Homo sapiens: one gene and its partners. The protein of the gene in region 3 purifies or fractionates together with the protein of the main gene of each other region. This does not show direct contact. Each region holds a gene or a part of one and is shown on either strand. Other genes may lie near its edges.

Evidence for each region.
Region 1: the proteins of LPIN3 (region 3) and LRFN1 purify together in Homo sapiens (affinity purification with mass spectrometry, with the first as the bait; one large-scale study listed by BioGRID). This does not show direct contact.
Region 2: the proteins of LPIN3 (region 3) and NFXL1 purify together in Homo sapiens (affinity purification with mass spectrometry; one large-scale study listed by BioGRID and IntAct). This does not show direct contact.
Region 4: the proteins of LPIN3 (region 3) and TANC2 purify together in Homo sapiens (affinity purification with mass spectrometry, with the first as the bait; one large-scale study listed by BioGRID). This does not show direct contact.
Region 5: the proteins of LPIN3 (region 3) and MAST3 purify together in Homo sapiens (affinity purification with mass spectrometry, with the first as the bait; one large-scale study listed by BioGRID). This does not show direct contact.
Region 6: the proteins of LPIN3 (region 3) and CWC25 purify together in Homo sapiens (affinity purification with mass spectrometry, with the first as the bait; one large-scale study listed by BioGRID). This does not show direct contact.
Region 7: the proteins of LPIN3 (region 3) and RALGPS2 purify together in Homo sapiens (affinity purification with mass spectrometry, with the first as the bait; one large-scale study listed by BioGRID). This does not show direct contact.

The regions. Positions count from the first base shown.
Region 1 is NC_000019.10:39,308,465-39,310,863, reverse strand, and holds part of LRFN1 (leucine-rich repeat and fibronectin type III domain-containing protein 1 precursor), read left to right. Parts: intron 1-2,321; coding exon 2,322-2,399. UniProt on the Homo sapiens protein: Promotes neurite outgrowth in hippocampal neurons. Involved in the regulation and maintenance of excitatory synapses. Induces the clustering of excitatory postsynaptic proteins, including DLG4, DLGAP1, GRIA1 and GRIN1.
Region 2 is NC_000004.12:47,901,084-47,904,583, forward strand, and holds part of NFXL1 (NF-X1-type zinc finger protein NFXL1), read right to left. Parts: intron 2,241-3,500; coding exon 2,110-2,240; intron 1-2,109.
Region 3 is NC_000020.11:41,347,321-41,350,820, reverse strand, and holds part of LPIN3 (phosphatidate phosphatase LPIN3), read right to left. Parts: intron 3,270-3,500; coding exon 3,174-3,269; intron 2,865-3,173; exon of another isoform or gene 2,772-2,864; intron 2,203-2,771; coding exon 1,934-2,202; intron 1,733-1,933; coding exon of another isoform or gene 1,730-1,732; coding exon 1,649-1,729; intron 1,048-1,648; coding exon 927-1,047; intron 767-926; coding exon 424-766; intron 1-423. UniProt on the Homo sapiens protein: Magnesium-dependent phosphatidate phosphatase enzyme which catalyzes the conversion of phosphatidic acid to diacylglycerol during triglyceride, phosphatidylcholine and phosphatidylethanolamine biosynthesis therefore regulates fatty acid metabolism.
Region 4 is NC_000017.11:63,417,235-63,420,734, forward strand, and holds part of TANC2 (protein TANC2), read left to right. Parts: intron 1-1,072; coding exon 1,073-1,173; intron 1,174-2,761; coding exon of another isoform or gene 2,762-2,764; coding exon 2,765-3,500. UniProt on the Homo sapiens protein: Scaffolding protein in the dendritic spines which acts as immobile postsynaptic posts able to recruit KIF1A-driven dense core vesicles to dendritic spines.
Region 5 is NC_000019.10:18,132,278-18,135,777, reverse strand, and holds part of MAST3 (microtubule-associated serine/threonine-protein kinase 3), read right to left. Parts: intron 1,200-3,500; coding exon 1,067-1,199; intron 962-1,066; coding exon 796-961; intron 39-795; coding exon 1-38.
Region 6 is NC_000017.11:38,808,322-38,811,821, reverse strand, and holds part of CWC25 (pre-mRNA-splicing factor CWC25 homolog), read left to right. Parts: intron 1-1,226; coding exon 1,227-1,354; exon of another isoform or gene 1,355-1,546; intron 1,547-2,056; coding exon 2,057-2,120; intron 2,121-3,500. UniProt on the Homo sapiens protein: Involved in pre-mRNA splicing as component of the spliceosome.
Region 7 is NC_000001.11:178,917,244-178,919,791, reverse strand, and holds part of RALGPS2 (ras-specific guanine nucleotide-releasing factor RalGPS2), read right to left. Parts: 3' UTR 1-2,548. UniProt on the Homo sapiens protein: Guanine nucleotide exchange factor for the small GTPase RALA. May be involved in cytoskeletal organization. May also be involved in the stimulation of transcription in a Ras-independent fashion.

The DNA of each region.
Region 1 (2,399 bases), on a different chromosome or scaffold from region 3:
GGTGGCTCTTGGTAGTGGGAGAACCTCCTGGAGGTGGGATGACAGAGGTGGAGCTTCAGGGCCAGAAGGTGGCTCTGCTGGAGGGGAAGCGGAAGCATCGGAGAGATAAGCAGGCCTTCGGAGGTGGGGATGTGGCCTGTCAGAGGGGGTGGAGCTTGTTCTGCATGGTCCCACGAAGAGGAAGGGGCAGTCCTTGTCTCCCGGGACCCACCAAGAGTCTTTGCTGGAGAAGAGAGCTTGTGAGGTTGCATCCTGGCCATGCCAATCAATGTGGAACGGGCAGTCCAGGTTTAGCTGAGGCTGGACATGGCCCACAGTGTGGAAACGATGTGCTCAACAGAAGAGGGCCAAGGCCTAGCAGGAATGGCCCTCCAGAGGGGTAGATCTTATAGATGGGAGGAATGCAATGGGCTGGATAGTGTGAGCCACAGCAAGGGTTACTGGCCAACACGAGGTGTGATGCAAGCTAATGATGATATCATTAAGTGCCAGGTCCTGGCTGTGTTAACTCATTCATTCCTCACACCATCTCTATGATGTAGGAATTATTATCATCCCCATTTGGGGAAAATGAGACACAGGGAGGTTAAGAAACTTGGCGAAGTTCGCCGGGCGTGGTGGTTCATGACTGTAATCCCAGCACTTTGGGAGATCGAGGCGGATGGATCACCTGAGGTCAGAAGTTTGAGACCAGCTTGGCCAACGTGGCGAAACCCCATCTCTACTAAAAATACAAAAATTAGCCAGGTGTGGTGGTGGGTGCCTGTAATCTCAGCTGTCCGGGAGGCTGAGGCAGGAGAATCACTTGAACCCGGAAGGCAGAGATTGCAGTGAGCCGAGATCGCGTCATTGTACTCCAGCCTGGGTGACACAGCGAGAGTCTGTCTCAAACAAAACAAAATGAAACAAAAGAGAAACTTGCCTGAGGTCACAGAGCAAGCAAGTGGCAGAGGAGAGACTCAAACCCGGGCAATCTGGCCCCCAGCCTTTGTCATCTTAACCACTTCTCTACACTAGTCTTCATTCGAGGGGAGGGGCCTACAGCAAGAAAGGAATATGGTGTGTGCTTGGCTACGTTTGACCCCTTTACGGAAGAAACTTACCTGGTAGCGTGATTTGGTGACTTCTGGTGGCACATGAACATATGAGGTGGTTGCCTTTAATATCTGGACAAGGAGCAGGGCCTGTAGTCTGGATGTGGCCTATACACAGTAGGGGAACCATCCTTAGTGGGCCATTGTGGGGTGTGCCTGGAAGCCACATTTCATTTGGTTGGGGAATGGCCTGTAGCAATGTCAGGGAACATGTAGTTAAGGGACTTGGAAACTGTTCCAGGACATAGACAAAGCTAGATGGTTTTTTTTTTTTTTTTTTTTTTTTTTTTTGGTTTGTTTGTTTTTTGAGACAGAGTCTCGGTCTTGCGGTCTTGTAGCCCAAGCTAGAGTGCAATGATGTGGTCTCGGCTCACTGCAACCTCCACCTCCCGGGTTCAAGCGATTTTCCTGCCTCAGCCTCCCGAGTAGCTAGGATTACAGGTGCCTGCCACCACGCCTGGCTAATTTTTGTATTTTTAATAGAGACAGGGTTACCATGTTGGCCAGGCCAGTCTTGAACTCCTAACCTCAGGTGATCCACCCTTCTTAGCCTTCCAAAGTGTTGGGATTACAGGCGTGAGCCACTGCAGCCGGCCAAAGCTAGATGTTTTACCCAAAGGTGCTGCATGCAGATAAGGGGGAGCGACCTGCATCATGGTTTTCCCTGAAAGGCAGGAATATGTATAAAAGAGGAACTAGAAGAGCATCCATTGTTCCAGTAGGAATATGACAGGCGCTGTGAGCTGACCTTAGTGTCCACCTGAGTGGGGGATGGGGCATGCAGAAAAGGGGAGGTGGCCAGTAGCGTTGGCCCAGTTTTGGGGTAGAAATGCCTAGATGAAGGACCTTGAATGGCAGTTGTCCTAGCAAGAGTGAGACATAGCTAGGGAGCATGTCCCTTGAGGGCAGGGCTTAAAAGCCATAGCACTTCTCCCCTGCAGGGGCCGGGATATGCAGAGGAGGTAATACGAATGATAGATATATTGTCCCAGTGGGTGATGGGACACAGCCAGGAGGTGGGTCTGAGGGCGGGGCATACAGATGAGGGGTGTGAAAGGGTGGGAATATGTTGATGGAGGCGGGGCTTGAATTGCTGCTGTTGTCTCAGTAGCGGCTGAGACTTCGATAGCAGGGTTTAGTCCCCACTGTTCACCATGGGCGGGGCATAAAGCGAAGGGGCGTGGTTCGGGGGGACTAACCCCGCCCTGAACCCGCCCCCTCCTACAGGATGATCCCGTCCACCAGTCAGACCTTCCTGGTGAATGACCTGGCGGCGGGCCGTGCCTACGACTTGTGCGTGCTGGC
Region 2 (3,500 bases), on a different chromosome or scaffold from region 3:
TGCAAACGCATGAGTTTTATTTTAAATAATGGGATGCCAACAATGAAATGTAATTATGCTAGATCTTCTTCATTAAAAAGCAGTATCTTAGTAGAAACCTATATTTTAAATTTTTTATTTCCATAAAATAACTTAAAATTATTAACATTTTACCAAGTTCTAGCTCCATCTTGATGAGGATTAAACAAAATGGGTTCTTAACCAGAATGGTCATTTATTTTCTTAAAAAAATATGAAATATGGAATGCAAAGTATATGGCACAGCTGATTAAACTGTTGTTCCTTTTAAATTAGAAGTTAACAGTACATTTTTTTTAACTGATCCTTTCCTCCTCTGTGGCAAAACGACTACTTAAAACAGAAGTGAGAAGAGCGAGGGTAAAAAAATATATACATAAGGTTTAAATCTCTAAACTAAAACCTGGCTTAATTCCGTACCTATTAGACACTAAAATTCCTCCACCACCAGTAAATAATATGCAGGAGCAAAACAAATATACTTTGAAATGTTAAACAGTTTCCAAAAAGTGTGTATTCAATGAAAAGAAAAATAATATTTCTAAAAGCCAGGTCATAAGAGATAACTCAGGTGGAAGAATAGAAAAAGCACTGAATTTAAAAGTAAGAAATCCTAGGTTTCAAATTTTGGCTCCACTACTTAAGAGTGAGGAGTCAGAAGTCATTTCCCTTCAATTAACTTCAATATCCCCACTGGTAACAGGAGAATAAAATCTCTCACAGATTGCTGAGAATTATTTTTACATACTCTTCTAAAAGTAACTAGCACATCTAAATGTTTTTAAAAACTACACCACTGGCCAGACGCAGTGGCTCATGCCTGTAATCTCAGCACTTTGAGGGGCCAAGGTGGGTGGATCACTTGAGGCCAGAAGTTCAAGACCAGCCTGGCCAACATGGTGAAACCCCATCTCTACTAAAAATACAAAACTTAGCCAGGCATGGTGGCAGGCACCTGTAATCCCACCTACTCTGGAGGCTGAGACGGGAGAATCGCTTGAACCCGACAAGCAGTGGCTACAGCGAGCCAAGAGCGCACCACTGCACTCCAGCCTGGGCAATACAGCAAAACTCTGTCTCAAAAAAAATTAAAATTAAAATAAAAAAAAAATTTAAACATAAAATTAGTTACTAAAGTTACAAAATGTGACCACACAGAGCCCATGAAGCTTATGCTTCATTACTTTGACAGTCAATCTACCTCTCTGGGCAGCCAATATGAATAAATTTCTTATTGTCTTTACTTAGCAGAGATATAAAATTCTACTCTCCAACTCTTTCTGGAAATATAACAAAAGTTCTCCAGATCAAATAATCATCAATAATAAGCAAAACTAATAAATGTAAAAAAATGATATTGTATAATATACACCTGCAGTTTTGAGATTTGGGAGGATAAAACTGGGAATCTTATAATCAAAATACATTAAATGATAGTCTTGTACAATGTAATAATAATGCATACTCATAGAATTCTGGACAAGAAGATCACAATTATGAATGATTCTCAGTCCTAAAGAAAATTGAAAGTCCTTTCAAAGGATAATTAAGGAATTGTTTTGCACAGGAAAAATTAAGTCTGGATGATTTATTAGTTATCAAAAGGAACTAGTAGTTATAGAAATTCAAATTGAAAAAAACAAGACTTTATCAAGATTCCACATCTTCACACACCAAATGACTAATTAAAAGCCCAACATGGATATTGAAACCACCAATAAAGCAACTTAGAATCTACAATCTTCATTTATTCTACAATTTAATAATCCAATTAGGCCAGGCGTGGTGGCGTGCCAGCCTAGTTGGCACTTTGGGATTTTTTGGGGTGGGTCACCTGAGGTCAGGAGTTCAAGACCAGCCTGGCAGACATGGTGAAACCCTGTGTCTACTAAAAATACAAAAAATTAGCCAGGCATAGTGACAGGTGCCTATAATCCCAGCTACTCAGGAGGCTGAGACAGGAGAATCTCTTGAACCCAGGAGGTGGAGGTTGCAGTGAGCCAAGATCGCCACTGCACTCCAGCCTGCGTGACAAGAGCAAAACTCCATCTGAAAATAATAATAATAATCCAACTAATTAGAAAAAGTTACCAAGGCCAGGGACAATCTTTCTTTCCAAAATCATCATCAGTCACAGAAGATACAAGAAACTGGCTGTCTTTAGCCCACTTCTGGATACAGGGCATGTGAAATATACAGAAACATCCCGAACAGCTCCAAACCTAAGACAAATGTATCAGAAGTTAATATATGTTAATTTTTCTTTGTTAATTGTAAAATAATTTAAAATGAGTATCACACTAAACTATTTTCAAGAGCTACCTAAGGATTAAAGAAAAAAGGTCTTTCCTTCCAGTATAACAGAAGAACTGTTTCATGGGAAATGCATTTAAATGTAGGATACTTCGAAGAAAATTATTATTAGTCAAACAGATTCATTCAGCTAGAAATAATTACTGCTAACATTCTGGACAATCTCCAAATTTATATATATATATTTTTTTCATACTTTTAAAAAATGAGGTCATACTATAATAACTGAAATGTAACTTTATAGTCTTTTCTATAAGCATATTTATAGCTATACATTACACCATGTAGACTTACGTACTTAAATTTCTTGTTGGATGATTATTTCCAAGTATAAATAACACTACAAAAGAATCTTTAAACATAAATATGTACATATATCTCTACACAGCCCTTTTGTTATATAAAACCTATTAGTCTAACACCTAACTAATGCTAAATTCTAAAAATTAGGTAATCAAAAAACAAGAATATACATAATTTAAAAGCTTAAGAAATAATACTAAATTAATTTTTAAAACCTGCCAAACACTTTGATAAAACTGATAAAAATCAGTTCCCCTTTCCTTATAACATTTTACAACTGTTTGATAAAATCAGACATGTAGCATATCGCATGAGCTAACAACAGCATTAAACAGCCGACTTCTTAGTTTGGGTTACCCCCAAAGCGGTATCTAAGAACTTGGATGCAGGAGTAAGGGGACTAGACAGGGAAAAAGAAATAACCAATGAATGGCATATGGTTGAGCTGATTACCACTAAGGGCCACAGAAGCTCAATCCTCCAGGGGACCCTCTGTAAAACCATGTAAAACACGCCTTGGACTGCCCAGCCCCACTCGCTAATGGAAAGGAGGTTGGGGCATTCACCTACCAACTCCCTGTGGTGCAATGTTGCTGCAAGGGGCTTTAACTCCCCAGTGCTTCTGCACTATACCCATGTACTAGCTAAGTCAATTTCCAAGAACAAAATTGAGAGGCGGAAAAAACGCACACACACAGCAAATGTTTAAAGTGGGTTTCTATCTGCATGCAGAGACTATGCATTCCCTGCAGCTGAAATCAGAGTAAACCAACTAGATGTGACTCTAGGCACAAAAGGCATCTGTATCTGCTATACTCTTCTACCCAACCAGAGCATGTTAAATTTCTGATTCACTCTACATGACC
Region 3 (3,500 bases):
CGGCCGTCTTCCATTTCTTGCTCAAGGCACGCCAGCTGCTTTCAGTTTCTGGACATGAAACTTCTCTCCAGCCTTACATCCCTGGCACATACTGTTTCCTCTGCCTAGAATTCCCTTCCCCTGCTCCTCACTTGGCTGAATCTTCATTATCCATGTCTTAGCTCCAACATCACCTTCTCGGAGGGGCCTTCTCTGACCACCTGGTTTAAACAGCTCCCATTCCAACCAATGACTATGCCTGTGGCACGCCCTTCCACACATGCAGCATCTGTCTCCCACACTGCACTGTGAGCTTCATGAGGCTGGTGCCAAGAACAGCACCTAGCACACAGCAGGTGCTCAAAATGTACTTGAAGTCCCAGCACCCACCCAGGGGACAGAGCGAGGCCAGGGAGGCAGTGGGAGAGACCCAGCGTCACTCACCTTTCCCCCTGGAGACCCTCTCTGGCTGCCCGGTGGGAACTGGAACCTCCAGAGTGGCCCAGCTCCATGACTTGGAGGCAGGAGGGAGGCCCATGTCCCCAGAGCTCTGAGTCTTGCTTTCCTCTGTCTCTGGGGTGTGGAGAGGGGGACCCACTAGAGTGGGATCCTCTGTGTCAGGCTGAAGGTCGGCACCAGCCTCTGTTTGCTGGATTGGGAGTCCCAAAGGGTCCACGCCGCCAGCCACAGAGGTAGAGGGAGTGCTGGGTCCTCCCCGAGGAGGAGAGGTTGCCCCAGCTCTGCCTTCAAGGACCACTGAGGACTCGGGCCGCTCAGCTCTGGCCACCTTTAGTGGAACAAATGGAGGAAGATGTGGGCCAGGGTAAGGCCCATGCCCCACAAAGCTTTTGGGGCAGTGGCCCGAGTTTCAGTCCCTCCAACCCTGACCCATGGGGGCCACAGAGCCCCTGAAAGGCCGGGCCTGGGGTTGATACAGAGGGACTCACCTTAGGCAGCCTCCCCCAGGCCCACTGCATGTGGGACTCGGCTCTTAGGGGACTGGGCTCCGGGGTCCGCACCTCCAGCTCCGAGTCGCTCTTAGGGGATGTTAGCTCACCTGCTGAGAGGCTGCAGGAGACATATTGAGAGGCCTTGAGCCTGCCTACCCATCCCCGCTGCTGCCCACCCCAGCCAGGGAAAAAAATATGTGCAACCTATATTTATGCCTGTGTTGAATCCATAATATATAAGGAATATGTAAAGATCTAAAGAGTATACAAATATATGAATAACTTATACTAATCAACAAGAAGAAGACAATCCAGTAAGAAGAAGGATGGGAGGGAGGAAGGAAGGAAGGAAGGGAAGGAAGGAAAAAAAAAGAAGATGGCAAAGTTGTAGCTGGATTGCCTAATGGGCATAGGGTTTCCATTTGGGGGATGGGATGTTCTGGAACTAGATAGTGGTGATGGTCATTCAACACTGAATGTACTTAATGCCACTGAACTGTATACACTTTGAAATAGTTAAAATGGTAAATTTATGTTATGTATATTTTACCGCAATTTAAAAAAATCAATAAAAGACTTGAACTCTTTACAAAGGAAAAATACGAATGGCTAGTAAACACATTAAATGGGTCCTGTGTCATTAGTCATCAGGAAAAATGCAAATGGAAACCTCAGACCTTGATCTGGAGTCCTGGCCTGCAGCCCACCTGGACTCTTACCTGGCCTGGGGGGGCCACTCGCCATCCGAGTAGGGGTAGATGTCTTTGGGCTGCAGTGAAGACTTCTCTTCCAACTGGACACTGCTAAGGGGCCACAAGGAAATGGTCACTGATCAGGCAGGATGCCCCAGGCAGGCATGAGAGCCTGGACATCAGGGGCTTGGTAAGGTGAAGCAACTACTGCTCAGAGAGGTCAAGGCCCTTGCCCAAAGTCACACAGCATGAGCAGAGGAAACAGCACTTGAACCCCCAAACTGGGGTTCAAGTCCCTTGGTCCTTACACACCCTGGGGGCTCTGGCCTCAGCTTTTCCGGCAGGGATAGCTCACTCTCAGCGCCTGCCTCCAGTTCCTCTGGACTAGAATCAGTTGCCACTGCATCCTCTTTCTGCTTGGGTTTCCTCCTGCGACGCCTCTTCCTCCGCCCAGTGGAGGCCGTGCCTGCCATGACGAGGCCCTCAGGCTCACTGGCAGTGCCCAGCTGGGAGTCCGAGGGGAAGCCAGACAGACCCCCCCAAGGGATGGGTGAGGTGCACAGGCCGGGAGGCACATGTTCCTGTGGAACAGACCAAGAACTGAGGTCGGGGGCTGACCCTAGTGGGGCTGCGCTCACCACACAGTCATCTTGAGCCTTGCCTGGGTCCCAGCCCTGGAGTGAGCTCATTTAGGGTCAGGAAAACAGGTGTGGAGGCACCAGCCTGGCCCTGTAGCCACTGCTGGCCTCAGAGGTCCCCAACAGAGCCACCTGCCACCCTGGCAGGCCAGGCAGAGATCTTGGCATCGGCCTCTGATCTCCTCTTCTACCCAAGTCTATGACAGCAGACATCTACTTCTGCTTTAAGATTCAGCCATATGTCTCCTCCTCCAGGAAGGAGCCTTGACTATCCCTCTCCCAATCCCAACATCCCTCACTGCAATGACCAAACGGCTCATCATCCATTGTTTATGTGTCTAGCTCCCAGAACAGCCTGGAACTTTCTTTGAAGGCAGGGGTCACCCGTCATCTGAGTCTGTTGCACAGTGTCTGGCCTACAGTAGGGACTCAAAGTTTTTCAAGTTCTGTTTCAACTCCTCTGCTGGCTTCTGCTGGGCCCTGCCTCCCCTGTGCGAACACCCACCACTTACACACTTCTAGGTTCCAGCCACACGGAGCTGGCACCAGACCCAGGACAAGCCAGATGTTATACTTCCCAGCCCCTTTCTTCAGCTCCCGCCTCCTCTTCAAGCTGCCTGGGGAAGGCCTCCTTTTCATCCCACAGGGGCCCAGCTCAGGGGTCCAGTCTTCTGAGAAACCTTCCCCAACTTCCCAGTAAATAGAGTCAGTTGGTACCCTGGCCTCTTCCTCTGGGCCCCCACAGCATATCACGTGTGCCAGAGGCCAGCCCCAACTGATACCCCTGCCTCAGACCTCTGCTGGTGGGGTGCTCCCGGGGAAGGGCGAGGATGGTGACAAATCCCAAGGCTCTGCCCAGAAGAGGCACAGGAAAGGGGTGGGCGGGGCAGGTGCTGTTAGGAGGGCAGACTCACATCATCGCTCTCCAGCTCCTGAACAAAGAAGGCCTCCCCGCTGTCCCCAAGCTTCATGTGCAAGTCCACAGGCTCCCCATTGAGCTCAATGTCTACCTGCAAATGGAAAGCGGTGGCAGGGACATGGGCCTTCACGCCCATGCTTCCGACCACAGGCCTCCTGGCTGGTCCTCCAGTGGCTCCTTGCCGCCCCAAACACCATACTTGCTGGGGTTCCCTCCCTCCGGACCTCAAGTGCCTGGCTGCTCCCCACGAAGGGGGGCTCTGCTGCATCTCCCCTTCCTCAGAGAGGCCTTCACTGAGCTCCCTACCCATCTCTCCCTCACT
Region 4 (3,500 bases), on a different chromosome or scaffold from region 3:
TTTACCTATGCCCCAGGGCCTTTGTTCTGCCCAAGGCCTTGTTTTCTGCCTTAGGACTCATGACCATAACCAGAGGCTACCATGCTATACTGTGGCTTTGACACTAAAAGAAGGGGAAAGCCTTCTCTTTTAGCTTAGTATTTAAGGGAATACTGAAAACCATAGGCTGCCTAGTCGGCGTTGTTCCCCACCCCACCCCCCAGTCTCTGTTTCCAGGGGTTCTCAGGAATGACATGCCTGTGAGCGTGTTCCTCTAGGGAGAGCACAGACCTCAGTCACAGCTGGGGTCTTCTCTTGTTTTGTTTTATTTTTAATTTTAAGTGTTTCCTAAGTAAGGAACCAGTTAAAAAAAGGAACAGATCAGAGAAGCCTCTGTGAAATAGAAAGAAAACGATAATTAATGAGCACCTACTATGTGCCGGGAACTGTGCAGGGCTTTTAAATACTGTATCACACTTGATCCTACCCCCGGGGTAGGTATGGATGAGAAAATACACTATACACTTGGGGGTTATGAAGCTGGTCAGAGAATTGAACCCAGGTCTGTCTGACACCCCCTCTCCCTCTAGTCTCTGTAGTCAGTGCAGTTTCCTTTACAGACGTCATCCTCCCGGACTTTACAGGACACCTTCTCACCTGTCCCTTAGAAAGCCACAGTGTAGTGCATGTAGCAGGAAGGTGTGGGGCTCAGACCAGGGTCCACGTGAAATGTGGACATGTGTGCGTTTGCCTCCTACATGCATGGATAACTTCAGGAGCTTCACTGGAAAGGGTTGGTGTTTGGCTTCCGGGCTGAGAACTTTATTAGAAAGGCAAAAAGAGGGAAAATTAAAACTATTTTAATATTCTGGGCAGATAAAGTCCAGTGAGCAGTCGCAGCGCTACACAGGACAAAGGCAGAAGGAACTTTCAGTCCACAGGCCACGCGGCTTGAGCCATGTCAGGCACGTCTAGCGTCCCAGGCGTTCCATCCATGAATGTCAAAAAATGTACAAATAATTTGTTTTATTCCCAAGTTGTCTATTTTTTATATCTCATCAATGACTCATTTGCACACCTATTGTAATGACAGGATTTTGGAATGGCGGAGGAATTTGCTACTAAGGCCCTGGAGCTGAAACCGAAATCTTATGAAGCTTACTATGCGAGAGCAAGGGCAAAACGCAGCAGCAGGTGAGGAGAGAGAGAGAGGGTGAAAGCAAGAGGTCTCTTTTCTGAAAATTTGGCCAAGGCAGCGTCGGCCACCCTGGGGCATATGTACCCAAATACATCTCTGTCCTTGAGAACTGTCAGGGCCAAGCTTTGGGGATGGCTCCCATAGCACAGCCCTCAGCTCAAGATCAGCAAATCTGCTGGGCTGTGGAGGCCACGAATGTTTCACTTCGGGAGAAAAACACTTTTTCACTGGAGAATGGCAGCTTCTTCCAAGAAGCCTCTGCCGTATCTCAGGCATTTTTCAACCCCCAGAGCAGCTAGCACAAAGAGACAACGGCGACTTAAAGAAATCACTTAAGCAGAGCACCCCACCCCCGCTTTAGAGGGAAAGTAGGATGGTTCACTTAACATCACAGGTTCCTCTTCCTTCTCCCATAGGCGTTTGAGGAATCCCGGATTAGTTAGTCTTCCCTCTGGGGCTCTCCTCAAGTCTGGTGGCATCAGACCCCCTTCCACCTAAACCATCACCCACCACACACACACAGAGTCAAGAGGTCCTTGCTGCCAGGATGGAGAGGACCCTCTAAGAGAACACCATTCCACATTCCTTGTGCCCATCTGCTTTAGTTTGGCCACTGGGCAGAAAAGCTCCCAGAATAACCTAGAACCTGCCATCAGTGATCTTTGTGTAACTTGTCACTGTCTCTTATGCCTCCTGCCCTCCTCCTCCCCAGCTGCATGGGAAAGAACTGCTTCAGGTTCACTGCTATGGCCAGGGGCACATGGTCCCGAAAATCACACCCAGCTTGAGGCTAGTGATGGTGGTGGCAGTGATCGCACTCTTACCTAGCTGGGGCAACGAAGTCCTCACAGAAATCTGACTGAAATTCTCCTTCCCTCTGGGTAGTTCCTTTTTCACAAGGTCAGTTGCCCCTGTCAGGTGATATTAGTAGAGAAGATGGGAATGTCTCTGACAGTTCATTTCTTCATTTGTAAATTAGAGTCTCCTTGGAGTCAGCTCAGCTCCAGCCCCGAGTGACCTAGTCAGCAAGCCTAATGCCTGCCCCACTTTGATAGAGCAAATGGAGACACAGCAATTCTGAGAGATGAGGGTTAGAAAGGGCAGAGGACAGGGTTCTTGCCTAGAGTAGAACAGGCCTGAAATTTGGAGCTAAAATATTGAGAATATAAAGAAAAATTTCTGCTGGATCAGCAAGATTTTTAAATATGTAGTTTTTTTTGTTCCTAAGCTACTTGACAGTGACCCTGTAAATGACAACCCCACCCAACTCTCATACTGCCTGGTGTGTGTTTGGGCACCAAAACAACTTCCCGAAGGGCCTGGCTGGACTGACAAAATGGGGCATTTCTCCACTATTCCCAGAGAGGCCAGAAGGAAGATGGAGGCCGAATGGGTTAGGGAATCATTCGGACTCTTCCAGAATGAGTCTTCCTGTTTCCTTCCCTATAAATCCAACTAAACCGAAATACCCCAGACTCCCACAGACGCCACCACAGCTCTCTGAGATAGTGACCATGTTCTCAGCTCTTGGTGATTTCTCTGGATTCAGAATAACTCCAGTTCCTGTGTTCACATTTTGTCAAGCAGACAGTTCGCAGCAGCCTTAGAGGACCTGAACGAGGCCATCAAGCTGTGTCCCAACAACCGTGAGATCCAGAGACTTCTGCTGAGAGTGGAAGAAGAGTGTAGACAGATGCAGCAGCCACAGCAGCCACCGCCGCCACCGCAGCCTCAGCAGCAGTTGCCGGAAGAAGCAGAACCTGAGCCACAGCATGAAGACATATACTCTGTACAGGATATATTCGAGGAGGAGTACCTGGAACAGGATGTTGAAAATGTTTCCATTGGCCTCCAGACAGAGGCCCGGCCCAGCCAGGGGCTCCCGGTCATCCAGAGCCCACCCTCCTCTCCCCCGCATCGGGACTCAGCCTACATCTCCAGCTCACCTCTTGGCTCTCATCAGGTTTTTGACTTCCGGTCCAGTAGTTCTGTAGGCTCTCCCACTAGACAGACCTATCAGTCCACCTCACCTGCCCTTTCTCCAACTCATCAGAACTCACATTACAGGCCTAGCCCACCACACACTTCCCCGGCTCATCAGGGAGGATCTTACCGTTTCAGCCCCCCTCCTGTGGGAGGACAGGGCAAAGAATACCCAAGCCCTCCCCCTTCCCCTCTCCGGAGAGGCCCTCAGTATCGGGCCAGCCCTCCAGCTGAAAGTATGAGTGTCTATAGATCCCAGTCTGGTTCACCCGTGCGCTATCAGCAGGAAACAAGCGTCAGTCAGCTTCCTGGCAGACCCAAATCTCCATTATCCAAAATG
Region 5 (3,500 bases), on a different chromosome or scaffold from region 3:
TGGAAGGGCCTCATCTCCCTCTGGCCACATGATCTCATCTAAAATGAGGGAGGGAGGTAAAATGAGGGAGGGAGGGAGAAGGCAGGGTACCCCTTTCTAGTACCATCCACCATTTCCCCTCACTTCACTGTACTCCAAGCCACTGGCCTCCTCTGCCCCTGCAACGTGGCAGGCTTGGTACCCACTGACAGCCTTTGCCACAGCTGTGCCCTATGCTCAGAGCCACCTTTCTCTTTTCTGTCTCTATGGCTTTCTCTCATTCTCAGGTTCTTGCAGGTCTCTGCTCACATGTCACTTCTTTTTTTTATTTTTTGAGATGGAGTCTCGCTCTGTCACCCAGGCTGGAGTGCAGTGGCACAATCTCAGCTCACTGCAACCTCTGCCTCCTGGGTTCAAGTGATTCTCTTGCCTCAGCCTCCCAAGTAGCTGGGATTACAGGTGCCCGCCACCATGCTCGGCTAATTTTTGTATTTTTAGTAGAGATGGGGTTTCACCATGTTGTCCAGGCTGGTCTTAAACTCCTGACCTTATATGATCCTCCCGCCTCAGCCTCCCAAAGTGCTGGAATTACAGGTGTTTGCCACTGTGCCCAGCCTCACAAGTCACTTCAGTGAAGCCTCTGTGACCCTATAATTAATCCAGCCACCCGCCTCACTCAGCACCCCACCGCCTCCCCACCTGGCATCCAACTCCCTCCCCTCTTCCTGCTTCTCTCCCTGACATGCGGGTGGAGGACCGCTGCCCAGAGCTCTGGTGGGGCTGCAGCTCAAACCCAGGCCCGTGGAGGAAACGCACCGCTGACCACCTGACCGAAGAGTTCCTCGGGGGTATCTCCAAAGAAAGGCACGCAGCCCACCAGAAACTCATAGAGGACGACGCCCATGGCCCACCAGTCCACTGGCTTCCCATAGCCCTGGCGGAAGATCACCTCGGGGGCTATGTACTCCGGCGTCCCACACACCTGGGCCAGGGAGAACGGGGAAACTGAGGCCAGCCCCCAGCCCAAGAGAGGTCCCAGGAGAGAGGAGGAGGCATCCCGGGGCTGCCCACCCACCTGCCCGCCCACCTGCTTGTCGATGAACTCTCGGGCGTCCTTCTCGATGTGGCCCTCATAGAGGTTGGTGGCCATGCTCATGAGGCCGATCTTGGACAGGCCGAAGTCCGTGAGCTTGATGTGGCCAAGCGAGGTGATGAGCAGACTGTGGGCAGGTTAGGAGTGTGCTCAGAGCTGGGGGGCTGGGGTGCCTGGCCTCCCCTTCTGCCCTAGACCTTGGCTCCGCCTGAGATGGGCAGAGCTCTGCCTCCAACTCCTGGGCCCTAGCGATCCTCCTGCTCAGCCTCCCAAGTAGCTGGAACTACAGGTGCACACCACCACACCCAGCTAAGGTTTTTTTTGTAGACATAAGGTCTTGCTATGTTGCCCAGGCTGGTCTTGAATTGCTGGCCTCAAGCAATCCTCCCACCTTTGAAAGTGCTGGCATGACAGGTGTGAGCCAGCATGCCTGGTCTCTACTGTGTGTGCGTATATGTGTGTGTGTGTATATATATATATATTTTTTTAGTGTACTTTTAGTAGAGACGGGGTTTTGCCGTGTTGGTCAGGCTGGTCTTGAACTCCTGATCTCAGGTAGTTCACCTGCCTCGGCCTCCCAAAGTGCCGGCACAGAATTGTTTCTTTACAGAGCTGGAGCAAACAGGAGGTACTGACTACATAGTTCATTAAATGATGGTTATACACAGTGAATTCTCTGGAATGTATTTTTAAGTGGCAGATGCACCCAGAAGGTGCACGGAAATGCGACTTCATACAGCTGGTGCATAAGACACTATGATGTAGCAAAACATTTATATATTTAAGTCCATAGGAAAACCTAAACAGCAGTATATACTGTACTTGCGTGAGAGTTTTAAAAATGAGTTCATTTGCCGGGCGCAGTGGCTCACAACTGTAATCCCAGCACTTTGGGAGGCCGAAGCCGGCAGATCACCTGAGGTCGGGAGTTCAAAACCAGCCTGACCAACATGGTGAAACCCCGTCTCTACTAAAAATACAAAAATTATCTGGGCGTGGTGGCGCATGCCTGTAATCCCAGCTAATTGGAAGGCTGAGGCAGGAGAATCGCTTGAACCAGGGACTCTGAGGTTGCAGTGAGCCGAGATCGCACCACTGCACTCCAGCCTGGCGACAGAGTGAGACCCCGTCTCAAAAAAAAAAAAAAAAAAAAAAATTAGCTGGGCGTAGTGGTGGCGCATGCCTGTAATCCCAGCTACTCGGGAAGCTGAGGCAGGAATATTGCTTGAACCCGGTAGGCGGAGGTTGCAGTGAGCCAAGACTGCGCCACTGTACTCCAGCCCGGGCGACAAAGACTGTCCCTGTCTCAAAAAATAAATAAATAAATAAAGATAAAGTGTTCTGGGCCAGGTACACAGTCATTGCCTAATAACTGTTCTTCTGCCTATTTTGTATACACCTGGTGCCTAACAAGTACATGCCAACCAAGAAAATGTGATATAGAAACCCAACGTTAGTGTGTAAGGAGTTATTCATGCTTCTGAGTTCCTTAGAGCATCGAGCACAGGCCCAAGTATACAGCAGGTGCCACATACATGTCTGTTTTCTAAGCCACTTGCCAACTGCAAAATGCCCTGAAAACATGCGAGGCGCTTTTTTTTTTTTTTAAGATGGAGTCTCGCTCTGTCGCCCAGGCTTGGGTGCAGTGGCACGATCTTGGCTCATTGCAACCTCCGCCGGGTTCAAGAGATTCTCCTGCCTCAGCCTCCTGAGTAGCTGGGACTACAAGTGCGCGCTACCACTCCCAGCTGATTTTTGTATTTTTAGTAGAGACAAGGTTTCACTATGTTGGCCAGGCTGGGCTTGAACTCCTGACCTCAGGTGATCCGCCCGCCTTGGCCTCCCAAAGTGCTGGGATTACAGGTGTGAGCCACCAAGCCTGGCCTACATGCAAGGCTCTTAACACTCATGTTCACATCTCCACACATGTATGTGAGAAATGTCAGTTCTTGCCTCGTATCTCGAGGACACCTGACAAACAGGCATTCCTTTTTCCCTGCACACAGCAGGCGCTCAATAAATGCAGAGGAGAAAATAATACAGGGGTTTCAAAGCAGGTGGCCCTGTGTCTCCCAGTTGCCCACAGAGGGTCTGGCATGCAGTAGGTGCTTACCACCTACCAGAATAAAATAAACATCCTAAGGCTCTCAGTAAACACGTTCTCTTCCTTGCTTTCCTGCACTAATATACAGCAGGTGCTCAAGACATGCACGGTCACTGTCTTTACATGTAAGGTCTCGCAAATTGCATAATCCTGTTCTGTGTGTGTAGTTGGTGTCTTATAAGTGCATGTTCTCTCCCCTTGTGCAGCAGCAGCTCTGGGTGCGCAGCCCCTTCTCCTGTATACAGTGTGTGCATCCTAAGTGCACATCCTCTCCCCTGGATTGGCAGCACCTCCATAAGTGCACCGGCCTTCCCCTGCATACAG
Region 6 (3,500 bases), on a different chromosome or scaffold from region 3:
GTTCCTGTGACACAGAATGGAAACTCCTAGGCAGTGGTTTTGGTGACTGTTTAAAAACACAAATTCTTAGTCTCACCTACCAGATACCAGTTCAGTAGTTGGGGGTGTTAGTGCACGGCCAGGGTTAAGACCCTTCCCCTGGTGTGTTGACAGGGAACCCCTATAATGTCCTGGACTTCTGTAGACCCAGAGGCATGGAGTCAGGCAGTTTGTGCATGAGCCACGCCCCTCAAAGGAGACTGATAGGGGTCTCAGTAATCTTTTTTTTTTTTTTTTTTTTTGAGACGGAGTCTCGCTCTGTTGCCCAAGGTGGAGTGCAGTGGTGCAGTGACACGATCTTAGCTCACTGCAAACTCCGCCTCCCAGGTTCATGCCATTCTCCTGCCTCAGCCTCCTGAGTAGCTGGGACTACAGGCGCCTGCTACCATGCCCAGCTAATTTTTTGTATTTTTAGTAGTGATGGTGTTTCACCGTGTTAGCCAGGATGGTCTCCTTCTCCTGACCTTGTGATCCACCCGCCTTGGCCTCCCAAAGTGCTGGGATTACAGGTATGAGCCACCCCGCCTGGGCTTTTTGTTTTTTTTTAATGAGATGGAGTCTCACTCTGTCGCCCAGGCTGCTGGAGTGCAGTGGCGTGATCTCAGCTCACTGCAACCTCTGCCTCCTGGGTTCAAGTGATTCTTCTGCCTCAGCCTCCCGAGTAGCTAGAACTACAGGTACACACCACCACACCCAGCTAATTTTTGTATTTTTAGTAGAGATGGTCTTTCACCATATTGGCCAGGGTGGTCTCGAACTCCTGACCTTGTGATCCTCCCACCTCAGCCTCTCAAAGTGCTGAGAGATTACAGGCGTGAGCCACCATGCCCAGCCAGTAATCTTTTTTTTTTTTTTTTTTTTTGAGACACAGTTTCACTCTGTCACCCAGGCTGAAGTGCAGTGGCACAATCTCGGCCCACTGCAACCTCTGCCTCCTGGTTCAGGTGATTCTTGTACCTCACCTCTCAAGTAGCTGGTATTACAGGTGCCCACCACCACACCCAGCTGATTTTTGTATTTTTAGTAGAGATGGGGTTTTGCCATGTTGGCCAGGCTGGTCTCGAACTCCGGACCTCAAGTGATGATCTGCTCCACTCAGCCTCCCAAAGTGCTGGGATTACAGGCATGAGCCACTGCGCTGGCTGGTCTCAGTAATCTTGTGTGCTTGTGTTCTCGGCATTTTCCAGTTGCAAATGAGTCTGGAAAAAAAGGAGAAGAAGAAAAAGAAGGAGAAGAAAAAGAAGCACAAGAAACATAAGCACAGAAGCTCGAGTAGTGATCGTTCCAGCAGCGAGGATGAGCACAGTGCAGGGAGGTGAGCATGTGGCGACTGGCCTCCCTTCTCGTTGATTCACTTGCTCATTCACTCATTCATTCCACAGACATGAACACCTGCCCTGTGCTGGAAGCTGCCAGGTACTGGGCATTCAGTGATGAACACTTGAACATGGGCCCAGTGCCCACAGAGCTTGCCATCTAATGCTAGAGTTCCTTGGAGATGCTAAATGTGAGTGGGTATCTTGGCCATGCTGCTGGAGAGAGACCCTTAATAATGCTGACTTTAGCCTAGTAGGTCTTAGGTAGGTCAGACATCCTGGGGGTGACTCTGTTTCATCTCAGCTTAGGATTCCTTCAAGACTGAAGTGGGCTTTATATAGGCTTTTTTTAATGGACTGATGGCTGATGTGGGCCCATTTTGCATGTCTTCCTGTGGAAGCAGTCAGCTCCGCCGCTGCTGAGTCACTATTTGTCCCTGGAATAGCAGCATGAAGTGAGAGGAGAAGGTGTTCAGGCGTTGGGGCTTAGAAGCGAGGCCCACAGTTTTTCACAGGAAAATTTGATTGTGCTGATGCATTTTTCGGCATAGACAGTCCAAATAGAGAAACGTACTGCCAGGTAACTGCTGGGAGGCGGAAAGGTCACATTGGAGGCAAGAAGCATAGTTCAGCATAAGATATTTAAATTGGACCTATATATATTTTCTTTTTCAATGAGTGTGTGTATTTTGATCTCTTAGATCACAGAAGAAGATGGCAAATTCCTCCCCTGTTTTGTCCAAAGTCCCTGGATATGGCTTACAGGTAGGGATGTGGGCTTCTTGAAAGGAGTGACTGTGGGACTGTGGGATGTGCCACTTGGACAATGTGGATAGCAGGGAGGTGGGCAGTGAAGCCTGGGCTGCTGGGAAACAGGCCCATTCTTATCGCTGAGCACCTTCTTGTGGCTGATGACCCTCTGAGCAGAGAGACTAAACCACCAATGGGGCATTGAGACATTCTACCCATCCCTCTACAAATAATTTACATGAAATGCACACATTTTAAGTGTATAGGTTTTTTTGTTTTTTTTTTTTTTTGAGACGGAGTCTCGCTTGTCACCCAGGCTGGAGTGCAGTGGCGCGATCTCGGCTCACTGCAACCTCTGCCTTCCGGGTTCAAGCTATTCTCCTGCTTTAGCCTCCCGAGTAGCTGGGATTACAGGCGCCCACCACCACGCCCGACTAATTTTTGTATTTTTAGTAGAGACAGGGTTTCGTCATGTTGGCCAGGATGGTCTTGAACTCCTGACCTCAGGTGATCCCTCCGCCTCGGCCTCCCAAAGTGCTGGGATTACAGGTGTGAGCCACCGTGCCTGGCCTAAGTGTGTAGGTTGATGATTTTTGACAAACATAAATCTGCTGGGTTCTTTTTTTTTTTTTTTGAGTAGCAGTGCATCATTATTTTGCCTAGGCTGGTCTCGAACTCCTGAGCTTAAGCAATCTTCTGAGTAGCTGGAAGTACAAGTTCAAGGCACCTGGCTTGACTTCTGTATTTCTGTATTTTTTTTTTTTTTTTTTGAGGTGGAGTTTTGCTCTTGTTGCCCAGGTTAGAGTGCAATGGCGCGATCTCAGCTCACCACAACCTCGACCTCCTGGGTTCAAGCAATTCTCCTGCCTCAGCCTCCCGAGTAGCTGGGATTACAGGCATGCACCACCATGCCCGGCTAATTTTGTATTTTTAGTAGAGACAGGGTTTCTCCATGTCAACCAGGCTGGAGTGCAATGGTGCAATCTCAGCTCACTGCAACCTCTGCCTCCTGGGTTCAAGCGATTCTCCTGCCTCAGCCTCCTGAGTAGCTGGGATTACAGGCACCTGCCATCACACCTGGCTAATTTTTGTATTTTTAATAGAGACAGGGTTTCTCCATGTTCGTCAGGCTGGTCTCAAACTCCTGGCCTCAAGCTATCCGCCTGTCTCGGCCTCCCAAAGTGCTGGGATTATAGGCGTGAGCCACCATGCCTGGCCTCATATTTCTGTATTTTTAACCTTGGGTCCTGTCCTCCATGCTTCTGCATCTCGCTCTTCCTTAACCTATAGTGAAGAGCTAAGCCAGGTGTATTCTTTTCTTTCTTTTTTTTTTTTGAGAGGGAGTCTCGCTCTGTCGCCCAGGCTGGAGTGCAATGGTGCGATCTCGGCTCACTG
Region 7 (2,548 bases), on a different chromosome or scaffold from region 3:
CTGGTTGTAAAGGAATGTGCCTCAAAAAAACAGGAAGGAAATCAATACCAGATCTATTCATTTAAAAAGCTAATGGATGGAACCCATTACTATTGATTTTCAATTAGTATGATGCCCTATAGTTTTGTTTTCAGTAGTAAAGGTATACAGTTTACGATTTAACCTTAAAAAGAAATAAAAGACTTATGCTCAAGTCATTTGGCCAAAAGATCAACAGGCTGCTCTTTGAGGGCCCCAGTTTAAGCTAATAAGGAAAGCTAGAGTCTGTAAACATGTTTTCCATTCTTTTTTCCTCCTGTACCAATAGTGCTTCCTAGGCTCCTCATAAATCTTCTAGAAGAGGAATAAAGCCACTTATACAAACTTTGCAGTTATAAACACCCTGACTTTTGATATACAGAAAGAACCAATACCAACACAGTCCACACAGAAGGTAGTGCAATAGTTACATGGCATTTTCCACACAGAAAAAAATATTTGAAATTGAAGCACATGCCTAGGGAGAAAAAAATACTGAAACTCAAATTGTTTGGATCCCTTTTTGTAATGTTTGCCCAAATAATATTTACATAGTGAAGAAAACAAAATAGGAAGGTGTGTTTGATCAGTTCTTGTTCAATTCTTACTGTCTGGAGGTAAAAATCATATTCTGAAAAACAAGCAGAGCCTGAACAGAGCGGGCACGAGGCCAAAAACAGTGCTCTGGAAGGTCATTCTGTAGTTATTTTCAACAGGCTATATAACATGCCAATCATTATGCTTATCATAAACAGGCTTAAATTGAAATTATAACTGAATTTCTAATGAGTTCTTCTTGGCTAAGGGTGAAACAAATGACCTGAATGCTGATGAACATTTTGAGTTTTTGAGTCACTTATTTACAATTGAGGGCAGGCTTAATAAGAAGATTCATCTTCCCACGAATGAACTACCTATATATTTAATATATTTTGGTAACATATTTTCTTTGAATTATTATCAGGTATTATTTGGTAAATTATAGATAAAAAATTCACCTACACTATTTTAAGTCACTTTTCTGTTTTCAATTTGCTTCAAATGCTAAAATAATCTTAAAAAGCAATGACTAATTTTCTGAATGAATAAATTTTAAAGACAGAAAAACAACGACTTCTGTGCTGTTAAGAAATTTAGTCAGTCAGAGGCCACAAGTCTATCTATAAACTATTAACCAAATTTGAACGCTATCTTACTCTACGCAAACATCCATTAATGTTTAGAGCCGAAAGTATCAAAAACATCTTCCAGCTTAGCTCTCTCCCTTTGGCAAAACTATGTGATGTCAGGCTCTGACTTCCAACTGCATATTTCCACAGATATGGTTAACCTACAACATTTCTACGTTAGCTTATTATGACAAACAAATGAAATAAAAAAAATCCACAGGGTTCTCATTCACAATACTTTTTAAAAAAGCACATACACTGTTAAAAACGCTATTTCTGAAGAGAAATAAACAAATTAAGAAATTTTTAAAAATGCAAAACAAAAGTAAGATGTGCAAGGTCTACGTAGTAATACTGCTGGCTATGTCTTTCTATTACCCAACATGGGTTAAGCTTAGAGCATTAATTGAAAAATCATTCAGGACAGGAAACTTTTGTCCTCTCCAGCCTGTGTCACTAAACCCCAGAAATAATGGTATTTCTGTTACATAAGAAGCATATTTGAACTCTTAACATCTTTTCCAAACAGAATACTAAATTAAAAAACTTAACACTCAAAAAAAGCTCTTCTCTTTTCCTTTGGATGGATTTTAAGCTAATTATTGTATAAGCAATATTTTCTATTGAAGTTTCATGGACTCAAGGGCAAAATACTTATAATAAAAAAGTATAAAATTCTCTAAGAATACGAATGTGAGAAATTTTATGTGAGGCCCAAAGTAACAGAAGTCTATTAGTAGATATCAGTCACAAAGCATTACCTTACTCTAGGCCACTGCTAAAATTCATTATGTCTCAAGAGTTTATAACATTCGACATATAGCCTTTGTTTGAGTGTCATTTTTCATTAAAATTCTAAGGCATCTTACCTTCAAACTTTTTTTTTAATAATTCAACATTTACTTTAGAAATTAAATGCATCATTGCATAGAAGAGTTCTCATAAAACTGCTTGGTCAACTACTGACAAAATACGGTTTCATGTCAGAGACCGACAGTAAATTTTCAGAAAAATGTTTTGGTATGTTTATGGTAAATCATACAAGTATAAAGTTTAGATACTTAAAATTTCCAGAATCTGATATTTTCACCTTTATCCCTCTTAAAATTATTTTGTATGTCTTATAACAAAATATATACATACATCTCTATGTGTTACCTTTTAAACAAATATGATCCTGAATCTCATATTGAACAAAAAGAGAGAAAATGAATAATAAAAAAATAACTCTGGCATTATGCACATCAAACACTGTAAAAGAAAATATCCTGACAAAATATCAGTCTGTCTTGATGATAAAAACCACCTATGACTGGGAGAAGGGAAAACCCAATTAACTTGGAAAAAGATCTAATTATTGT